Linked DNA regions of Homo sapiens: region 1 is linked to region 2. A link means that fine-mapping ties the variant in region 2 to the expression of a gene that starts in the linked region. Tissue or cell type: whole blood. Region 2 holds a variant in brackets; the other region holds the start of a gene. All regions are shown on one strand. Distances are from middle to middle.

What was found. PIP is the estimated chance that this variant, and not a neighbour inherited with it, causes the effect.
Region 1: it holds the start of CSAD, and the variant in region 2 is fine-mapped to the expression of CSAD in whole blood (TOPMed, PIP above 0.99).

Annotation. Positions count from the first base shown.
Region 1 is chr12:53,179,808-53,182,489 of GRCh38, forward strand. CSAD (cysteine sulfinic acid decarboxylase) reads right to left here and starts at 1,118. Exons shown (of 17, transcript NM_001244705.2): 1 at 925-1,118. It overlaps ZNF740 (zinc finger protein 740), which reads left to right and starts at 915. Exons shown (of 7, transcript NM_001004304.4): 1 at 915-1,030; 2 at 1,870-2,185. The coding sequence starts at 2,177. RefSeq lists an enhancer at 384-942 and silencers at 605-694, 985-1,284, 1,638-1,932.
Region 2 is chr12:53,143,649-53,146,330 of GRCh38, forward strand. No RefSeq gene overlaps it. Among named protein-coding and RNA genes, the nearest start is that of ZNF740, 36 kb to the right of the region's middle. The variant GA/G (reference allele first, on the strand shown) is at 1,326.

The DNA of each region.
Region 1 (2,682 bases), 36 kb after region 2:
TCTCCTTCCATCAAGCGCATTTGCAGTCCATCTTTAGCAGGACCTCTCTCTAATGGCTAAGGCTAGGCAGAAGAATTTGAAGACAGTCTGGTTTCCATTTTCCTAATGCAGCCTGGCCCAAGAGCCAGGACTCCCATAAGACTAGTCTACTGTGGGAGTCAGGGTCTTTTCCACGTGTGGAGGCTAGTGTTTGATGCTGGACGGCCTGGAGTAAAGGGCGAAGGGGAGAAGGTAACCAACCAGGCTGGCCTCGGGATTCGCAGAGGAGGGCTGGGGCTTTGACTTCTGCAGGGAGGTGAGCAGTGTGGCCAAGGGCTACTCAAGGAACGCCTCTGCGAGAATTCAGACTGTGGTTGAGCGCACAAAGCAAGAGTGTGCGAAGAAAAGTTAACGCCTCTCCCAGCTGACCCCAAAATCTGCTAATCTGGGCCTGACGGAAAAAATTCGGAGAAGAACCACCTCGGCCGAGTTACGTGAAAAGGCTGGGTACGAACTACTCTGGCTCTACTTGGGGCGCCGGCTCAGAGCGATGGGCAGGACGTCCGCGAGGAAGAAAGAGTGACGATGATTTTTCAAGGAGTCTGAACCAGCTCACCCAGCAAACCCTCCTCCCATCGAGCACCCAGCGTACAATCATCGAAGGGCCGAGGGTCCTGCCCTCAGTCTCGATGGCGGCCGGGGCGCGCCCCGGCCACGGCGCACGCGCCGGCCTCAGCGCTCCCTCCTCCATGCCCTCGGCGCACGGCGCCGCCCACTCACCCAGCTGCACCTCTCCGTGCGTCCCCAAGCTCACCCGCTCTGAGGCTGCCCCCGCTAGTCTAGCTGCCGAGCCCGGAAGTGGATGCAGCCGCTCGGCGGAGAGGACGAGGGGGAGGGGGAAGTGCTTCCGGGGAAACGGGCCGGGGTTGGTGTTTGTAAACTTGCCTCGGTCCCGGTGGGGGCAGCCGCGGCGGTGGGGTTGGCAGGGTGTGCTGGGGCCTGGAGGAGGCGCCGCGCGGCCAGGGAGCCAGCGGGAGGCCGCGCCTGGCAGGTAGGAGCAAGCCCCAAAGACCGCAGCGTCGTCCGTACAGACGGCAGCGCTTCAGTAGCTCGCAAGCCGTGGGGTGCCGCGCGGGAAGGGGGAGGGGAGGGGAGGAGGGGCGCGTGGCGAAGGGAGGGGGATCTCCGGGGGAGGGAGGGGAAAGGCCGTGCGCGCACACCGCCCCCTGCCCGCGCGTCCCGCCGCGTCCCCGGCCCGGGAGAGGGCTCTCGGAGGGGACGCGGGCGCGAGCACGCATCTCGCGCGCTTCTCGGCACTCTCCGGCTCTGCTCCCGGTTGGTGCAGCGGGTGCAGAGGCTGGCTGGCCGGAGCGAGGCGGGCGACACGCCGCGCCGGGCTTCGCCTGCCTGTCCTCCACCTCCGCAGCAAGTTTCCCTACCTTCGGGCGGACGGGGAGAACGCACACGTGTGGGCACTGCCAGTCCCGTTTCTGCCCGCCACCGAAGCACCCAGCGATGGCCCTTGAGCTTTCCTCCACCCTAGTCTTGCCGCCTCTGTAAAGTGCGAGCTTTTCGGGCCGGCCCACTGGGCACAAAAGCCCCAAAGGGTCTCCGCCCCCTTCTTCCATTCCTGAGATGGCAAATCCAAGCAACTTTCCTTTTGGCAGAGTTCCTCCATAGGAGGCCCCAATTACTTTTGCTCCTGTTGGCTTCCACTCCTTGCCCAGGAGACCAGTTCCTCCTATTGACCTAGAAAGAAAACTCTTCTTGACTCATGTCCTCGTTCTGAGCTTCACAGAGAGCGCCCAGCAAAAAAAAAATTCATATCGCACGTTGTAATGGCCTGAAGATGTTGCATTTAGCAGCCCCCCTCTTCCTTTCTGGTTTCAGGTTTCTGAAACAGATCGTGAGCTTCATCAAGAGAATTCAACTGGAAAACCAAGACTGGTAGACTCTCTTTTTCTTCAGACAATAGGCAGGAGCCAGGCAGAGTCCAGGGATTCTTGGAACACCTATCTTTTCTTCGGAGGACACTAAGTTCTATTTGAAGACAAAGTTCAATATGGCAACAGGACTGATGGGACACGAAGGAGTCGCTACCGTGATTTGGTGACAGTTCTTCAAAACGACAGTGTCTCAAGGAAAGGTGGACCTAGGAACTCCTGAACTTTTGGGTTGCCTTAAGTGAGAAATCAGCATGGCTCAGGTAAAAAGCTCTAGAGTCCTCCTCCAAGATAACTGGGAAGCCTGTTTGCAGTTTCACTCTTGAATGCTGCCTTAGTCAACATATTGACCAACCCCAGTGATCCAAGCTCTGTATTAAGCACCAGGGGGAGATCTAGAGGAAGGAAAGGAGACAGGCCACAGCCCCTGCCTTCAGGGAGCTTCCAGTCAAATGAAGGAGGTAGGCTATACTGCATCACAGGCACTGATGGGACATTTGCAAAGCAACGTGTACTCAGTTTACATTTGGTACATTAAGTGCTGAGGGGTGTAAGGGAGTGAATAGTACGGTGAATGCTTCTTTTGTTTTTTTCCAACAGGAATTTATTGAGTTCCTGTTGCATGCAAGGCATTGTGCTGGGAATACAAAGATGAATACGATTGTCCTTGTCCCCAGTGAGCTTCCAGGCTAGTTGGGGTCGGGAGAGGGATGGAAAGCCATTTATTTTTATATTCACAATGCCTTGTATAGTGGCTGGC
Region 2 (2,682 bases):
CAACTGCTTGCCTCTTTTATCTATCCTCCCTTTTTTCTTTCTTCCTCTCTCCCCCAATGTCCACTCTTTCCCCTTCAAATATTGAGATCCCCAGACTGTCTTCAGAAAAGCGCACAGACCACAGATTTTTCCTGTGTTTCTGTATTCTTTTTCCAAGGTGTGTCCTTAACCTTGACAAATAAACCTCTTAAAATGATTGAGACTCACCTTGGTCATTTTCTTTGAGTTACAATATATTGAATTACACTGATTAATTTTTAAAAATTAAACCAACATTTGGCTGGGCACAGTGGCTCATGCCTGTAATCCCAGCACTTTGGGAGGCTGAGGCGGGCAGATCACGAGGTCAGGAGATCAAGACCATCCTGGCTAACACGGTGAAACTGTCTCTACTAAAAATACAAAAAATTAGCCGGGCATGGTGGTGGCCGCCTGTATTCCCAGCTACTCGGGAGGCTGAGGCAGGAGAATGGCGTGAATCCAGGAAGCGGAGCTTGCAGTGAGCTGAGATCTCGCCACTGCACTCCAGCCTGAGCGACAGAGCAAGACTCTGTCTCAAAAAAAAAAAAAAAAAAATTAAACCAACATTGAATTCCTAGGGTAAACTCCACTTAGTCATGATGTATGTTTTTCTATACTGTTAGATCCAATTTGCTGCAACTGTTTTAAGGATTTTTGTATCTGTACCATGGTGGATATTGGTTTGTAGTTTTCTTGTAATGTCATTATCTGATTTTCATATTATATTCCTATTTGGTAGCACATTCTGGGCAATAAGACATGTCTCAATAAATGTAAAAGGATGCAAATTATACAAAGTATGTTTTCTGACCAAAATGGCTTAAATTAGAAATCAGCAACAGAAGCTGGGCATGGTGGCTCACACCTGTAATCCTGGCACTTAGGGAGGCCAAGGCAGGCAGATTGCTTGAGCCCAGGAGTTTGACGACAGGTATGCACCACTGTGCTTGGCTGATTTTTGTATTTTTTGTAGAGGTAGGGCTGAGTTTTTAAAATTAGCTGGGAATGGTAGTGCACACCTGTAGTCTTAACTACTCGGGAGGCTGAGGTGGGAGAATCACTTGAGCCCTGGAAGCTGAGATTTCAGTGAGCCAAAATCACACTGCTGCACTCTAGCCTCAGTGACAAGAGTGAGACCCTGTCCCAAAACAAACAAACAATAACAGAAATATATCCGGACAGTTCCCAAATATTTGGAATCTGAAGAACACATTTCTAAATAAACCATAAATCAAAGAAATTAGAAGGGAAAATAAAAAGTATTTTGAACCAAATGAAAATAAAGACAACATATCAAAATTTAT[GA/G]GATAAAATGTATGGGATAAAACTGAAGTTGGGCCAGGAGTGGTGGCTCACACCTGTAATCCCAGCACTTTGGGAGGCCTAGGCAGGCGGATCACTTGAACCCAGGGGTTCGAGACCAGCCTGGCCAACATGGTAAAACCCCATTTCTACTAAAAATGTAAAAAAAAAAAAATTCTTTTTAAAGAAGAAGAAAAAGCCTGAAGCAGTACTTAGAAATTTATAGCACTGAATGCCTATAGTAGAAAAGAAGAAAAATCTATAACCAATGTCCTCAGCTTCCACCTTAACAAACTAGAAAAGAGGAGATTATACTCAAAATAAGCAGAATAAAGGAAATAATAGATTAAAGCAGAAATCAATTAAGTAGATAACAATAAAGACACCCAGTGAAACCAAGGTTGGTTCTTTGAGAAGATCAGTTGCAATTGTATTAGTCAGGATTCTCCAGGGAAACAGAACCATTAGGATATATGTAAATATGTAAGAGATTTATCACGGGAATTGGCTTGCACAATTATGGAGGTCAAGAATTCCCATGATATGCCATCTGTAAGCTGGAGAATCAGGAAAGCTAGGGGTGTTACTCAATCAGAGTCCAAGGGCATGAGAACTAGGGCAGCCAGTGGCAGAGCTCCCAGTCTGAGGCCAAAGGCCTGAGAACCAGGGCAGGAAATGGTGTCATCCCAGAGTCCAAAGGCCTGAGAACCAGGACCTCCAGTGTCCTCAGGTGAGTGTCAAGGGCATAAGATTGATGTCCCAGCTCAAGAAGACAGAGAATGTGCCCTTTCCTCACCTTTTTGTTCTATTGAGCCCTCAGTGATTGGATGATGCCTGCACATTGATGAGGACAGATCTTCTTTCCTCAGTACAGCAATTCAAATGCAAGCTCTTCTAGAGACAGCCTCACAGACACACCCAGAAATAATGTCTACCAGCTCTCTAACCTAGGCCAGTTGACATACAACATCAACCGTCACAGGCCAGACATTAGGGCTCATGTCCCTAATCCCAGCACTTTGGGAAGCTGAGGCAGGAGGTTCATTTGAGCCCAGCCTGGCCAACATAGCAAAACACCATCCCAGGCCAGGCGAGGTGGCTCACGCCTGTAATCCCAGCACTTTGGGGGACTGGGGTGGGCAGATCACTTGAAATCAGAAGTTCCAGACCAACCTGGCCAATACAGTGAAACCCCGTCTCTACTAAAACAAAATACAAAAATTAGCCAGGAGTGGTGGCATGCACCTGTAGTCCCAGCCACTTGGGAGGCAGAGGCTGGGGAATTGCTTGAACCCAGGAGGTGGAGGTTGCAGTGAGTCGAGATCATGCCACTGCACTCCAGCCTGGGCAACAGAGCAA